Homo sapiens: one gene and its partners. The protein of the gene in region 1 interacts with the protein of each later gene in a biochemical or structural test. Each region holds a gene or a part of one and is shown on either strand. Other genes may lie near its edges.

What was found. The genes of interacting proteins can lie anywhere in the genome.
Region 2: the proteins of PLG (region 1) and SERPINE1 form a complex in vitro, tested with the Homo sapiens proteins (one study listed by BioGRID).
Region 3: the proteins of PLG (region 1) and FN1 form a complex in vitro, tested with the Homo sapiens proteins (one study listed by BioGRID).

What each region holds. Positions count from the first base shown.
Region 1 is NC_000006.12:160,705,211-160,712,251, reverse strand, and holds part of PLG (plasminogen isoform 1 precursor), read right to left. Parts: intron 5,846-7,041; coding exon 5,710-5,845; intron 4,553-5,709; coding exon 4,446-4,552; intron 1,176-4,445; coding exon 1,061-1,175; coding exon of another isoform or gene 1,057-1,060; exon of another isoform or gene 380-1,056; intron 1-379. UniProt on the Homo sapiens protein: Plasmin dissolves the fibrin of blood clots and acts as a proteolytic factor in a variety of other processes including embryonic development, tissue remodeling, tumor invasion, and inflammation. In ovulation, weakens the walls of the Graafian follicle.
Region 2 is NC_000007.14:101,137,063-101,139,747, reverse strand, and holds the end of SERPINE1 (plasminogen activator inhibitor 1 isoform 2 precursor), read right to left. Parts: coding exon 2,664-2,685; intron 2,495-2,663; coding exon of another isoform or gene 2,397-2,494; exon of another isoform or gene 2,344-2,396; coding exon 2,306-2,343; 3' UTR 1,959-2,305; coding exon of another isoform or gene 1,651-1,958; 3' UTR 501-1,650; downstream 1-500. UniProt on the Homo sapiens protein: Serine protease inhibitor. Inhibits TMPRSS7. Is a primary inhibitor of tissue-type plasminogen activator (PLAT) and urokinase-type plasminogen activator (PLAU).
Region 3 is NC_000002.12:215,405,069-215,412,109, reverse strand, and holds part of FN1 (fibronectin isoform 1 precursor), read left to right. Parts: intron 1-1,995; coding exon 1,996-2,176; intron 2,177-2,370; coding exon 2,371-2,547; intron 2,548-3,683; coding exon 3,684-3,812; intron 3,813-3,912; coding exon 3,913-4,002; intron 4,003-4,788; coding exon 4,789-4,983; intron 4,984-5,599; coding exon 5,600-5,872; intron 5,873-7,041. UniProt on the Homo sapiens protein: Fibronectins bind cell surfaces and various compounds including collagen, fibrin, heparin, DNA, and actin. Fibronectins are involved in cell adhesion, cell motility, opsonization, wound healing, and maintenance of cell shape.

The DNA of each region.
Region 1 (7,041 bases):
GGTTCTTCTGTGAACCTATTTGGGATAACCCCCACCCCCCGAGACCTCAGTTCCCTCATAAAGATGAGCCTAGACTACCTCATAAAAATGGCCCAGAGTGTCTCCATGGCCCCCGATAGTCTCTGACTTTGCCATTTGGTTGAATCAGTTTTCATTAACTCACGGGGAATATTTGATCTGCTCATCTCATAGGGATATAGCAAAGGCAATTTGTTGAGTGTTGGGGGAATGGATAAAGGTGAGTAACAAGCACTAAGTTCCTATTTGATAAGCGTCATTACTGAGAACTTAATGCCACCTAACACCAAACTGGGAAAAGTACAAAAAAATGCACTAAAATAAATAATAGGCAAGTTGCAACATTTGAATTTCACGTATCTTCATTTTCATTTTTATATCTTATTTACTCTTTTGCTCCACAATTTGAGTCGAACATGTGATGAGAGTTCTAACCTGATATGCTTACTTCAGTCCCAAACATAGTCATCTTTGATCTTTTCTCAGATTTGGCCTAAAACTCATAGTTTCATTGATTTTTTTTAAACTAGGCATTCTTCTATGTTCTAGGTCTTCAAGAAACCTCCATATCCAAGAAAAAATAGAAAGCAACCATGTTCTACTATGGTGCCAAAAATAGTTGAACATCGACATCAAAAAGATTCTTTCTATCTGCTTATTCACATATTGTGGTTTGAATTAAAAGTGATGAAATTATCCTAAATACAGTTGGCCCTCTGTATCCATGGGTTCCAGATCCACAAATTCAACCAACTGTGGATGGAAAAGACTTGAAAAAGATGACAGAAAATAACAATATGACAATAAAACATAATACAAATAAAAACAATACAGTATAACAACGATTAAATAGCATTTACATTATATTAGGGATTATACAAGAGAAGGTATGTAGGTTATATGCAAATACTGCACCATTTTATATAAGGGACTTGAGAAGCATGGATTTTGGTAGCCACAGGGGTCCTGGAACCAATCCCTCACAGACACAGAGGGACAACTTTACAGTAGATGAACACAAAGATGAAAGGGAATGTCTTACCTAGGTCTGTGGGGAGAAGTGGAACTCCATTTTTGACAGGTGATGCCATTTTTTGTTTTGGACATCGTCCCTCTGTAGTTCTTTCCATTCCCAGTCTTGCACTCTGAGAGATACACTGAAGGGAAGTCCACACAGTGGTCAAAGTCTTTCACAAGACACCACATGAAGGTCTGCACAGCATAGTCACGTTGAGAAAAAGATCTCATGCACCAGACCCCCTGTTTCTGCTTTCTAAAAGATCATCTTTTGCATCTGCAAAAAGGCTGCAGTAAACTGAGCCATTCTTTGATTCATGTATTCAAATGCTACTTATGAGCTCTCTGTGTATCGAGCCCCACCAGGATGCTGGGGACACACGGGGCACAGTGCAGCCAGAGGCTTGGCCGTCATGGAGCTTACATTCTAGTGGAATCAGGCAGGGGGGTTACAGGAAATATTCAAGGAAACAATATAAAATGAGATCACTTAATGATGATACATATTACATACATGATGAGACAGAGTGAGAGAATGGGGAAAGGGCTTTTTAGATGGGGGAATGGCAGGCTTTTCAGAGGCTGAAAGAGATCCAACCCACTTCTATTTCTTCAGGCTCCCAGTGATATGAAAAAGTGCCAAACAGGGCTATAAAATTGTGGTCTACTGTAAATGGTTTGCAGTAAAAGTTCTCAACCAGCTTCCACTCAACCAACTCACCAGTTAGACAACGGGCCCTCTCCTGTGTTTAAAACAGTCCGGTGCCCACCTGGGTCCACATGCAGCTGGCAGGTGTTTGCTAGTGTGCCCACCCATGTCTGTTCCCCCCACGTGAGTTATGTGCTTACAACGAGTCATTTCTTTGCATTTTCCAACTTTCTTACATTTATATTTAATTAAAGATGATCTAAACTGAGAAATGAATGTGAAAAGAAACAAAGCTCTTTTTTGTTTGGTTTTTAACTAAATTAAATGTTTTTAACAAGTTGAAACATGAATCATTTAAAAAATTGCTATCAAATCCACAGAGGGCAATCCACTCATATAGTTGACTATAAAGCTTGAGGAGGAATTCATAAAAATCTAAAGGTTTTACACATTCAGATTGATTAATAAATGTCGAGATATGGTCCACTTCAAAAATAAGGAAAGTAATTATTGTAGATGTTGCACTGGAGCATAGTTTATGCAGGAAATACACCAGAGACCTTCTACTGGTGACCCCATATTCGAAGAAGAAAAGCCTCTGCTCTACGTCAAAAGGTGTCAAGTACACTTGTGTTTTCAATGAAAATATAAAATGTTTAAGGTATATTTACACCATCATTTAAGGTTACCCACTTTAGCCATTTTTTAATTAATTGATCAATCACATGGGGAAAGTGCTCCTAACATACCTACAGCAAACTAATGCTTTTAACCCAATACTGCGTATTATGATTGCAAGTACATCTTCATTGGGACATAGTATTACAGTAGACATAAGACACTCATCAAAAGTGTAAACTCAAGGTACTTTGTGAAAGGGAGGTCTAGGGGTCAAGGAAGATTTGCAAAGGACATGATGATTGAGCTGACACCTAGGAGATAAGAAGGAGCTGGCACAGCAGGACAAAGGTGAAGAGGGTCCCAGGCAGGAGGGTGTGTGCTTGGGGTGGTGAAGGAACAGAAGTAAGGCCAGTGTAGAAAAGTTTAGCAAGCCAAGCAAACAGCAGCTGGGGGTTACTTAAATAATGCTGGGCCCTAGCACATTTGGGAAGTCTTTGGGTCTTATTTTAAGGGCACTAGGAAGGGCTTTAAACAGGGAAGTTACATTTCTTAGAGATCATGTGTACAGCTACAAGTAGCCCCAACCAGTGGTGATAGGGTCTTGGACTTGGTGAAGGCAGTGTGGCTGGTGGCAAGTGGCAGAAGTAAATGTGATCTAACACTGACTGTTCCTGGCAAAACCCTGGCAGGTAAGTTAGTAGCAGGTCAATATCCCACAGCAAAGAAACAAGGACCAAAAAATGACTGACTTTTGACTTTTCACTTCTTTTTTTTTTGTATGTACCCATCAGAGTTTATATAACCTTTTGCTCCCTTCTGTCACTTTGAAAACAAGCAAACTAAGCCTTCAAACTTCAGACTTCAAACTCAACCTACAGTCATTCCCATGTTCCTTCTGGTTAACAATTTACAAATGACATATTTAAATGTTAGCATTTTGTAGAGAGAATCAGGAGAATCAGGGTTTTTTTTTTTTAAAATCTGGTACAATTAGGTGATCCTATTTAGTTTACCGTTTGCTTGCTACTTGTAAGAACTAATAACTTCACCAGATAAAGTTTAGATTTAATCTGCACTTTAATCTCAAGAATTCGAGATAAATAGTGGTAAGGAAGGAAGTACAATGCGTACAGCTAATGAAACCCAGGAAGATGAGTCAATGCATAGAAATAATTCCAACCCAAATAAATACTATTTAAAATGCTACTTAGAGTTTTGCCGTAATACTAGACACAATATGGCAAATCATCCTCAAGAATACAAGAACTAAGGTGTTTCCAGTCCTCTTTAACACCTGGGATGCAGAATGTTTGGAGAGCTAAATTGTTACTATTAACAGTCTTAATACCTGGCTACCAACACAGTAGAGGAAACAGTTTTTAAAGTGTCATGCATCCCTTCAAATATTTATACTTGATGGGATATGCTTAATGGGAGCATACTTGATGGGATATACTTGATGGGAAATGCTTAATGAAACATTTGCACATCTAAAAAGGCATGCAATTTCTATTGAAATCCTGTCTGCCTCTTATTCTAAGCAGTGGGACTATTGACCCACATTTTAAAATAAACTATAGAAAAGGAACTGTAACTTTTACACATTTTTAAAAGACAACATTTCAGAAATCTGAGAAAAATATAGACCATGTCCCCCAAAATGTGAAAAATTTAAGAGTAAAAATAAGATTTGTGTCCCAATCTAAATGTTTCTGAGGATTAAAACACCTCAGTATTTCTGTTTTACAAGGCTTCATCCAGATGTTAGGGCCCAAGGACCATGGTCACCCTGCAGAATAAGAAGCCAAGACCAAAAGGAATGCTTAGACTTCCCATCTCCTTGTTAAATATAAAATAATATTTTAAAAATCTTATTTTCAGGGTCATAGAGGTAGAAGTGATTTTGTAAATCTAATCCTTTCATCTTTTGAACAAAAAAAATTAAATCTAAGAGGTGAAGTAATACACTCAAGCTGACATGGTTAGTTAGTAATCAAATCCTGTCCTAACTCAGAATTCAGTTTTATAACACGATAGTGCCTTCCTCCTCTGGTCTTATAAATTAAAGATAGAATAGAGAAAGAGGAAGAGTGGGAGGATGGGGAGGACAGTAGGAGGAGGAGGAAGAAAATGTACTCACCTTTCTTTTCAAATAAAACTACATCTCTCATCCTAATGATTATGGAGGACTTCCTGTTTTCAGCCATTATCACACATTGTTGCTCTTTACTGTGATATTGGAATGCCCTGCAGAACGAAGCAGGAAATCCAATAAGTATTTTTCTTTATTTAAAGAAAACAAATGTTTATTAATAAGTGAGACATGCTAAAGATCATTGAATATCTTGAGGGACCAGAGAGCTCAGAATTGCTGCCTCTTTCAGTTATTTGGGCATGGCATCGATGAAGTACTGAACAAAATACACCAACGTGGCAGCAAATCTTATCTGCCCTTACCTTCCCTCCCTCATAATTTTCCCTTTCTTCCTGTTTCAACTGCTTTACTTCTTCTTCACTCATCTTCTTAATTTTTGTTTTTGGGTTGGAAAGAAGCAACTCTGGTTGCTTTGAACCCATTCGCCAAGATAGTCCGTCTCCATGACCTCCCAACTCTGATCAGTTCCCCTGAACCTCTGCTCCACATTCCACCCCACCCTGGCCCCTGACCCCTCCCATCTCCATCCCGTGGTCCTGCTATGGGTGCTCAGTCTGGATTCCATAGCTACCTTCCCAAGCCCGTCACCTACACAAAGTCTCTGCTTTAGTCAACTTCATCTCTTAATGGTCCCCCTCAGAAGGTGCAGGGCCGCATCTTCCCCTGCCTTCCTGGTGCTTGTCAAGAGCTCTCTCAACTCCAAACCCAGCTCAGTTCCCACCTCCTCCCTGAGCCTTCTCTAGCTGCCTCAACCTTAGGCACTGTTCTTTCTTCTGGATCTGGGTAGAGCATGCATTGATTATGCCTGTACCTCACTTGGGCTGTCTTTTTTTTTTTTTTAACATTATATCCAGTTTCTTTGACTACACCTTAAATACTAAAGGGCAGGCACTGGATCTTGTAGCTATAAGTCATTGCTCAGATCTATCTAGGACACTTTCATTCACCTGATCCTCAACAAACATTTACTGATGATGATGTTGAAAACTGGAGCTCAGAACAATAACTGCTAATGTTTGTGTCCGGTGTAAAAACAAATAACTTCCTTTGAGGGTATTTTTCTAACAAAGACTCCAATAAACCTTAACAAGAAGCTGTTAGTATGGCTTCACATACTGTGAGCAAATATAGTTCCAAACTCTGGCTCCATAAATTTCTCTTTCCTCTTAAATCATTAATAAATTTGTGAGTAAATTACTTGCCATCTGAATTACAGATTCCTGCGTAGGTGCAACGACAATGGAAATACCTGCAGGTGAATTCTTCGTCCTCCTCACATTTTGCTGCACATTCTTCTATACTTCCTGCTCCCAGCTGCTTCTTAGTGACACTGAACAGTGAAGCCCCCTGGGTATTCACATAGTCATCCAGAGGCTCTCCTTGACCTAGAGGTGGGAGATCCAAGTGGAATAAATGGTCAGTAAATCAATGTCAATGTCTAATTGTCATGACTTCCTTTTAATCTATTTGGTTAGCATTAACCAAATAAAACTTTCTGTTTACTGGAAGTAGAATGGGTAGCTATGAATCAAAATGTTTAGTTAAGAACACACAGTCGGGCATTTGGACATAAATAAAGATGGCAACTAAAGACACTGGGGACTACCAGAGAAGGGAGAGAGGGAGCAAGGCAAGGGCTGAAAAACTACCTATTTAGTAGGTATTTAGCTCACTACCTGGGTGATGGGATCATTTGTACCCCAAAGCTCAGTGTCACGCAATTTAGTTATGTAACACACCTGCACATGTACCCCTGACTCTAAAAGTTGAAATTATAAAACAAAGAAAAACAGTTTCATTAGCAGATTGCAAGATAGTAAAAGATTAACTGGATTGACAAACAGGTTAGAACTATGGAACCACTACTATGTTACCATATTAGTGGATATAAATCCTTAAACAAGAACAAATTTTATGTTTGCTATTGATTGTGCCATGTCATGAGAGAAGAGTAAGGCACCATCAGTGGCAGTTGTGTTACCAAGATTGATGTTGATTTGTTCATCCCTGGGTAGAAATGGAACTTGGAGGCCATTGTTTGATTTCCTACAATATGCGCTTTGGTTCTGGCACTGTCACTTGAACCGGTGGGAAGCATCCTCTGAATGGTCCCTCCTTGAGAAACATAAATTTTGGTGCATAGATGATGGTGGAAATAAACAAGAACTGAACTAAATTATGTTGCCACCTTGGACAAAAATTGGGCAAAACACTGGAGGGTAAGAAGCTCCCCAACAAAGAAGGCCATTTTTGTACTGGGCTTATGACAGTCACACAACACTACTAATTGGGGAGAAGTCAGTTTTTCCAAGGTGTTGACAGGTATCTGGATTTCGGAGGAAATTGTAAAAAAGCAGGACCTGGGACAAATACTGGTCTTGGTTTTTCTTTGAGATCAAATCTGAGACAACGAATCTGTCCGAAAGCTGCTTTCTGCCTGGTCGTGGCAGAGGGTGGCCAAGGGGGCCTCAGCTGTGCTCCCACCACAAGGCTACAGGGTGTCCCCTTGTCCTGAGGCTCTTCCAGACATCTGGCTGAGCTTTGGTAGCTCTATTCCAAGCCTGGAGATGCCAGCTCCGTC
Region 2 (2,685 bases), on another chromosome or scaffold:
CTTGTGGCAGAGCTGAGGTGACCATTTCATGGACTCCCCCATGTTGGGCCAACCTGGATGTAGGAAGGTCTCTTCCACCCATGAGGTCTATGGACCAACAGGATTTTGATTCTGGGTTTGTTGTTGTCTTTGTAGTTGTTGTTTTTTGAGAGGGAGTCTCGCTCTGCCACCCAGCCTGGAGTTCAGTGATGCAATCTCAGCTCACTGCAACCTCTGCCTCCTGGCTTCAAGTGATTCTCCTGCCTCAGCCTCCCGAGTAGCTGGGATTACAGGCGCCAGCCACCACGCCCGGCTAATTTTTGTATTTTTAGTAGAGACGGGGTTTCACCATGTTGTCCAGGCTGGTCTCAAACTCCTGACCTTAGGTGATCCACCCACCTCGGCTTCCCAAAGTGCTGGGATTACAGGCATGAACCACCACACCTGGCCTAGGCTTCTGATTTCTTGTACCACCGGTGTGAAATGGAGAAGGTGAAGGCAGTGACTGTCCTGACATATTCTTCGTATTTATTTATTTTATTATTTTTTTGAAACATTTTTACATGTTTATTTATCAAAAGTGAAAAAGCATACAATTCAACACAATTTCAATAGCATTTGACACCACCCCTGTGGATCCTGTACATGGCTGACGTCACCGTCCAGTGCAAAATCAAAAAAGAAAGAAAGAAAAACCCCAAAGAAAGAGGATTTTTCAGTGGAGAACATGGTGGGCTGATTAGGCTTCTATTAGATTACATTCATTTCACATCTGTGTGCAATTCTCCCATAAATTGGTCTTTAAAATATATATATATATTTAAAGATATTAGAAATATATATTTAAGTATATTTAAAATATATATATTTTTAAAGAGACGGGGGTCTTGGTATGTTGCCCAGGCTGGTCTTGAACTCCTGGGCTCAAGCAATCCTCCCGCCTTGGCCTCCCAAAGTGCATTACATCCATCTTTGTGCCCTACCCTCTGGCTGGTAGGTTTTCAGAAATATTATCTAAGGTAGTTGAATCCGAGCTGCCTGTCTCTCTCACCCACCCCCCCCTCACGTGTCCACTGCTCACACACAGCAGCCGGAAATGACACATTGAAGTGAGTCACCAATGCGGCTGTGAGTCACCCTGTAATTGGGGAAAGTTCTGTCCTGGTAGGTCATGCAGCCCCTTGCATTTCTGCTCCTAAATCTATTGAACACATTGGAAACCACTCTGTCCTCATCTGAGTCTCTGTCCCCCCACTCCGTCCTTTTGATCCCCTGAAGGAGGATGAAATTGTATGGTCAATTTCCATCAAGGGGAAAAAGAGGGGCGCGGGGGGCGCGAGGGTCTCAGGCGGCCACAAGGTGGCAGTGTGGGCTCCGTCACGCTGGATGTCCGGAGGGGTGTGTGCCAGTCAAGTGGCTGGACTTCCTGAGATACGGTGACACAGACCACAAAGAAACACTAGGAGCGAGTTTAAATAATATTATTTTCCTTAGTAGTTCTCTTTCTCTCTAACAAGCACTCAAGGGCAAGGATATGATAAATATTTAGGTACACCCCTCCCCACCAAGAGATTGGGGGGTGAAGAGCTGGGCACGCATCTGACATTTCTTCCTCTATTCCTATAAAAATAAAAGGAAGCAGAAATCTGCTTCAATGAGTAAACAAGTCACCTACACTCCAAAATAACCCATGCACACTGTTTCTGGGGAGGGAGATGGCCAGGCCAGGAGAGTTGGGCCACATGATGGGGGACATTCACTCTGCCACCTGCAGCACCCCTGTACTGGGGAGGGGTGGCCAGTGCCACAGTGGACTCTGAGATGAAAGGGTGTTTCTTCCACTGGCCTTTGGCCTGTCACCAGCCTCCTCCGCGGTGGCAGGCAGTACAAGAGTGATGGCAATGTGACTGGAACAGAAATAGTTTCTACCAGGCACACAAAAGCTCCTGTAAGCCCCGTAGTTCCATCCTGCAAAGGGCCTCAGTGGGAACCAGGTCTGCAGACCCGAGTGGGCAGAGAGACGGGTGGAAGCAGGTGCCCCAGATGGTCCCGCAGGCGTCACCGTCTGGTTTGGAGACCTTAAGGGAGTTGTGCTTCAAACTTCTCTCCCAGGGTCTCAGGTGGAGACTAGGGAGTTTGACCTAAAGGTCCTCCAAGGAGAGGCCAAGGTCTTGGAGACAGATCTGGTTTACCATCTTTTAACAAAAGGCAAATGTCTTCTCTTCCTTCAGAAAGAGTCATTAACACTAAAATTCTTTTCTTCGGAGTTTCTTCTTTCCCGATGCATCTCCAGTTTTGTCCCAGATGAAGGCGTCTTTCCCCAGGGTCAGGGTTCCATCACTTGGCCCATGAAAAGGACTGTTCCTGAGGGTGGAAGAACCATGGGGGTTGAGAAGCAGAAGGAGTGGGACAGCTCATCAGGCTGGATGTGGGTGGAAGGACTGAGATCTAGGCAGATGAGTGAGCTGTCTGGAGTCGCAGCTGCCTGAGTCACAGAGCGGGGACCCGGCACTGTCTGTGGGTGATAGAAGGTAGCCTCCTCTTGGGACAGGAAGCAGGGTAGGGTTATGGGTTCCCTGCCCAGAGCCCTCTCAGGGATAGAGGGATGTCTGCATCTGTCGGGACTAGTTCCTGAGAGAAAGAATGGGTGGGAGGATGTGGAACGTGATGGGTTCCAGGCTCACCTGTGGGGTTGTGCCGGACCAC
Region 3 (7,041 bases), on another chromosome or scaffold:
CAGCATCAGTGCATCCAATATCTTCTAGTCTCTCATCTTCTTATTACATCATTAATTTTATTTACTTTAAAATTAAGGATATCCAAAGTATTATGTGAGACCATTGCAATGGGAGACTTAAAAGTGGTATAAAATGTACTTTGGGCCAGGCGCAGTGGCTCACGCCTGTAATCCCAGCACTTTGGGAGGCCAAGGTGGGCGGATCACGAGGTCAAGAGATCGAGAGCATCCTGGCCAACATGGTGAAACCCCGTCTCTATTAAAAATACAAAAAAATTAGCTGGGCATGGTGGCGCATACCTGTAATCCCAGCTACTCGGGAAGCTGAGGCAGGAGAATCGCTTGAAACCAGAAGGCGGAGGTTGCAGTGAGCCAGGATCACGCCACTGCACTCCAGCCTGGGCAACAAGAGCGAAACTCCATCTCAAAAAAAAAAAAAAAAAAGTACATTGAATTGGAAAGTCTTCAAAAAGCAGCAGTGATGAATTTTTTGAGATTTTTAACAATTACAAAAATTCAGGGTTTTTTCTAATGGATGCCACCTGAGACTTTATTTTCTGTTATTTTCTTGTAATAACTAACCAAACAAGCTCATGTTGAAAAATGATTACTAAATTTGAGCTAATTGCAATGACTGGTTTCAAAATTTTCCACAGTGTATTTGAGTTAAAATTTCACTGTGAAGAGTACTACGATCACTCTCGCTTATTCCAAAAATATAAATGGACACTTGAGTATTTGAATTATTGAGGAAATGGTTGACTGGGTAATTTTTAAAAATCACTGGGCACAAAAAATATATTTTGACTTATATTAGTTTAGAGTATTTACACTTGAAAGAGTCTCATCTTTTCTGAAGGGTGTTTCTTTCATACACATTTTATTGCACTGAGTTTTGTGACCCATGGCATATTAATGAAGCTGAACAGGATGTGAAATATAAACTGGAAGCAAAAGATTAAATAAACCAAAATTGCATTTTTTCTGTAGTCTTGTCCAAAATTGGGTAACCACTTCTGATGGGGTAGCTCATATCCAAGAATGAGTCACAAAACCAGACTCGTTGAACCTGGTATATGATGAGTCACAAAGCAACATTCTGCCTTTGTTTTTTCAGGACAAGAAACTTGAATTGTATCCCACTGAGTTAAAAGATAAAATATATGGCATTGGCATTTCTGTACTTCAGAGAGGAATATATCTGTTTGTGGTAGGAATAAAAAATAAGTGAGAGAGGCAAAGCTTAGGTTCATCATATTATGTTACTGATATAACACAATTAACTTGGTAAAAGTGAAGGTGTGGGTGGGCGTGGTGGCTCACGCTTGTAATCCCAGCACTTTGGGAGTCCGAGGCGGGTGGATCACCTGAGGTCGGGAGTTCGAGACCAGCCTGACCAACATGGAGAAACCCCATCTCTACTAAAAATATAAAATTAGCCAGGCATGGTGGCACACGCCTCTAATCCCAGCTACTCGGGAGGCTGAGGCAGGAGAAGCGCTTAAACCTGGGAGGTGGAGTTTGCAGTGAGCTGAGATTGAGCCACTGCACTCTAGCCTGGGCAACAAGAGCAAAACTCTGTCTCAAAAAAAAAAAAAAAAAGTGAAGGTGCCCAGTGTCTGCAACTATGTCACCCCGGGCATATCACATATCACTCTGTTTTTCCGTCTGTAAAACGGGAGCAACAATGCCATTGCCTTATCATCAGAAGGATATGGAGACTAAATGGGAGAATGTAGGTAAACAGCACAGAGTATGGGTATCAGTAAGTAAACTGCAGCAGTTTGTTGATGTTAACAATAGTTAGCATTATATCTAACTATATCTAACGATATAACCATTGGGAATCCAGTTTTCCATGATTTTCCTCTAGAATGGAGCTGCCTAAGTCCTGCTTAAGTCATTTTTCTTTGAAGATTACTGAACATCATCTTCAAATGTTCATCCTTGTAAACACGTGTGTGTGTGTGTGTGTGTGTTAATTTAAATTTTCAGAAAAATTCTGTAGGCCGTTGGAAGGAAGCTACCATACCAGGCCACTTAAACTCCTACACCATCAAAGGCCTGAAGCCTGGTGTGGTATACGAGGGCCAGCTCATCAGCATCCAGCAGTACGGCCACCAAGAAGTGACTCGCTTTGACTTCACCACCACCAGCACCAGCACACCTGTGACCAGTATGTACACAACCACCCTCATGCCTCCTACCCCCGAGGTTCCTAGAGCTAGGCTCTCCTGAGGCAATGCTTTCCTTCTCAATTCATATTCTTCCAGGAGGGGCACCAACGTTTTTTAAAATGATGTTGGCGACGAGGACGGTAAATTTTCTAGATGACTGAAGGCTGACTTTCCCCTTTCTGTGACTCTCTAGGCAACACCGTGACAGGAGAGACGACTCCCTTTTCTCCTCTTGTGGCCACTTCTGAATCTGTGACCGAAATCACAGCCAGTAGCTTTGTGGTCTCCTGGGTCTCAGCTTCCGACACCGTGTCGGGATTCCGGGTGGAATATGAGCTGAGTGAGGAGGGAGATGAGCCACAGTACCTGGGTAAGCTCAATATGTCGCTCAAGACAGGTTCAGGGCAGCTGCTGGAAAACTCTCCTTGTGGGGGTGGGTGGCCTCTAGGCAGGTGGTATCTGTGGTTTGGAACTGGTTGACAGCTCAGACTGAACAAACCACCCTCTGGCATGAGGAAGGGAAGGACTGACTCTTTCTAAGAAGTGGCCGGGTTTTTCCCAAGCCACTGTCACATGTTCCTGGTCCCTGATGCCAGCTGCATCATGCGCCTACCTGTGCACAAGTTCCTACAGCAAAAGCTGTGTTCTTGGTGGAAGTAATTACCAGGACTGCAGCTGACAATGTGAGCACAGTACGGTCACTCATACTTTTCAAATTGTTATGGTGAGGGGCCTTTAAAAAACTTCATTGGCGCACTGAAGTGTGTGCCATCGTAAGCACTGAGTTCAGTGAATTTGAATTCTTATAAAGTGAACACACCACAAGACCAGCACCCAGATCAAGGAAAAGAATATCTCTCTACCCTCACCCCATCATCTTCCGCCAATAATCACTACCCTGACTCTTACTGCAGAGAGCTATTTTTAAAAATTTGGCATTCGATTACAAAAATTATACGTCTTTAGAAAAAAAGTTGGAAAAATGAAAGGAAGAAGGAGGAGGAGGAGAAAGGAGAAAGACAAGAAGTGGTGTTTTCCCATAGTACATTAATAATCACAGATTAGGTGGGTGCGGTGGCTAACTCCTATAATCTCAGCACTTCGGGAAGCTGAGGCTGGTGGATCACTTGAGGCCAGGAGTTCGAGATCAGCCTGGCCAACATGGTGAACCTCCATCTCTAATAAAAATGCAAAAAAAATAGCCGGGTGTGGTGGTGTGCACCTGTAATCCCAGCTACTCGGGAGGCCGAGGCAGAAGAATTGCTTGAACCGGAAAGGTAGAGGATGCAGTGAGCTGAAATTGTGCCACTGCACTCCAGCCTGGGCAACACAGCAAGACTCTGTGTAAAAATAATAATAATAATCACTGATTAGCTATTAGCACATTACCTTCTAGTCGCTTTTCCCTATGAATATATAATTCTTAAAATATCCTTCTTATAAGCTGTAGAGTCATTTGAGGGACTAGTTTGCTCTGATTAGTTACCTTTTCTTTTCATTTCAAAGATCTTCCAAGCACAGCCACTTCTGTGAACATCCCTGACCTGCTTCCTGGCCGAAAATACATTGTAAATGTCTATCAGATATCTGAGGATGGGGAGCAGAGTTTGATCCTGTCTACTTCACAAACAACAGGTACATGTGTGCTACATAGTGTTAAAAGAATCTTTTTCTGTAAAACACAGGCCTGTAGTAGCACTTCCTGACTGTTTGCCCCACTTTCTTTCTTTCTTAGCGCCTGATGCCCCTCCTGACACGACTGTGGACCAAGTTGATGACACCTCAATTGTTGTTCGCTGGAGCAGACCCCAGGCTCCCATCACAGGTCAGCTAAGCGTCCCCCTCTTTGGCTGCTATGTTAATCTTAATGACATCAGCAGGGAGGGCGCAGATTCTGACTGCGGACCTGCATATCACTTTAAATCTCCAATATAATTTATGGGAGAGGGGTTTGTGTGTGTGTGTGTGTGTGTGTGTGGCGGGGGTGGGGGAGTTATTTTCTATGGCACATTTCCCCTTGAAACCATTTCACCAACTCCCTTATACACACACACCACAACATACACACAACCTGTAAAGCCAGCTCATTGGCTTATTAAAGCAAGTGTTCCCAGGGTTGAAGAGGTGTAATTTCCTGAAAACGTTGCTCTAAGATTTATCCTTAAGGAGAAAGCTGAGCTGTCGTCTTAGCTCATTAGGTGATTCAACTGCCTCATCACTGAAGTTCCAAAAAGACACACACAGTGCTAGACAACTCTGCTTAGGCTGGTTCATTAATTGCTTCCCTCGTCTGGAGCTCAAAGAGGAAAAATCAGCTTAACATGAATATTTTCACCTAATGGCATCTCTAATTGACATTTATTAAGGATGTCAGGTCTTCAAGGATGACATTTATTATTAAAAAGGTTCGCATGACTGTTCTTATTTTATCTTCGTGCTGAATAGTCATTATTAGAAGAAGTGGCAATATTCAAAGAGTCAAAAAGTATCACTGGCTCTTCACTAATCAAGCAAGATGCTAAGGGATATTAGAAAAGGGAGGATTTATGGTGTTTCTAAGCCTCTGTCTCAAAGAAAACAGTGCATCTTACTTTTGCTCATGAATCTGCAGGGTACAGAATAGTCTATTCGCCATCAGTAGAAGGTAGCAGCACAGAACTCAACCTTCCTGAAACTGCAAACTCCGTCACCCTCAGTGACTTGCAACCTGGTGTTCAGTATAACATCACTATCTATGCTGTGGAAGAAAATCAAGAAAGTACACCTGTTGTCATTCAACAAGAAACCACTGGCACCCCACGCTCAGGTAACTTTTTTAAGAAGACACTTCCTATGTTATCTTATCAGGATTGTTCCTGAAGGAGGGTTGTTTTGTCTCTGTCAACAGTCCTCTCATTCAAGAAATCTTATATATTAGTTTTTCCCTAAACTTCTGATATTTAGCTGAAATGTCATAAGTAACTTATCAAAGCTGGCTACTGGCCTTTCTGATTAAAAACTGACACCATAACGTCCATCTACAAATTTTCCCCTAGAAGCTTAAGGGTCATTTCATTTTTGATTCTTAAGTATTATAAAATGATTCAGTAAAACAAAAACTGTTACATTATTTTCTGCAGTTATTTCAAAGGCTTTTTCTAAAAAATTTTTTAGTATCTTTTCTTATAACCCTCTCCCCCCACCACCATATGACACTTCATATGCTGGTAACTCACTTATTACCTATTTTAGATAAAAGGTTCAAATGTCATAATTTAAGCACTATGACTGGACCATGAAAATGTGATCTGATTAAGAGACAAAACTTAGCAAAACTCTCGAATGAGAGGCTCAATGAACTGCCTAACATATCCAAGAAACTGGCTTCTTAAAAGTAATCTTCAGCAGAGAATGTGAATGACCAGTTGACTCTTGTCTGTCAGATACAGTGCCCTCTCCCAGGGACCTGCAGTTTGTGGAAGTGACAGACGTGAAGGTCACCATCATGTGGACACCGCCTGAGAGTGCAGTGACCGGCTACCGTGTGGATGTGATCCCCGTCAACCTGCCTGGCGAGCACGGGCAGAGGCTGCCCATCAGCAGGAACACCTTTGCAGAAGTCACCGGGCTGTCCCCTGGGGTCACCTATTACTTCAAAGTCTTTGCAGTGAGCCATGGGAGGGAGAGCAAGCCTCTGACTGCTCAACAGACAACCAGTATGTCTTCTCCTATCTCTATCTCCCCTCCAAATTCTCCACCCTCACTTGCAGCCTGTGAGAAAGTGCAGTAAACCATTCACTCAGAGGTGTATGGCTTAGAGAGAGGGAAATACCCAGCCGGCAAGGGAATGCATAGTGAACACAAAGCACATTAAACTTGAAAACAAAACTCAGACAAGCTCCATGGATGCTAAGTGGTAACCCATTTCTAAAATACATGTACCAGCTGAAGGGTACTAAGAGGGGAGAACTGAAGAGAATCTAATTTGAGTGCATTTTTCGTGTAACTAAATATATCTAGATCAAAGTTAAAATGCAGGATCATAACACTTAGAGTAGAATTCATTTAACAATAGCAATTGTCAAGTGTCTAGTATTACTAGCCACCAGCTTATCTGCTCAGTTTTTACAAGCATTATTCTCATATTTACTCTTTGTTTTGACCTTAGGAAGGAAGGTCTTATTATTATTATTTTATTTATTTATTTTTTTGAGATGGAGTCTCGCTCTGTCGCCAGGGCTGGAGTACAGTGGCACCATCTCAGCTCACTGGAACCTCTACCACCTGGGTTCAAGCAATTCTCCTGCCTCAGCCTCCCGAGTAGCTGGGACTACAGGCGTGTGCCACCATGCCCTGCTAATTTTTGTGTTTTTAGTAGAAATGGGTTTCGCTGTGTTGGCCAAGCTGGTCTGAAACTCCTGACCTCAAGTGATCCACCCACTTTGGCCTCCCAAAGTGCTGGGATTACAGGCGTGAGCCATCGTGCCCAGCCGGAAGGTCTTACTAGTATCCGTATTGAATACTTAAAGAAACTGAGGCTTTAAAAAAGTTCTGCAACTTGTAGGGTCACAGAGATAGGAAGGGATAGAGCTGGCTCTATAACCTATGTCCGAAGCCCATGCTCTCAATTATTATACTCGACTGCCTCTTAAAGATTTCCTCTATTTGAAAGGTAATTTAAATTTCGGTGGGAAAACTGCTGGTTATTATTCTCAAGAATAAACTCCACAACTTATGTGATTCTGATAGTGCAAACTCACCAGTATCCTACCATGAATCTGAGGATACGTTATCATTACTGTAATTACTGTCTAATCTGAACCATGTGAAAATAACTTTTATTTCTCTAGCAAAGGGCTATTCACAGAATATTGCTTTTGACCCA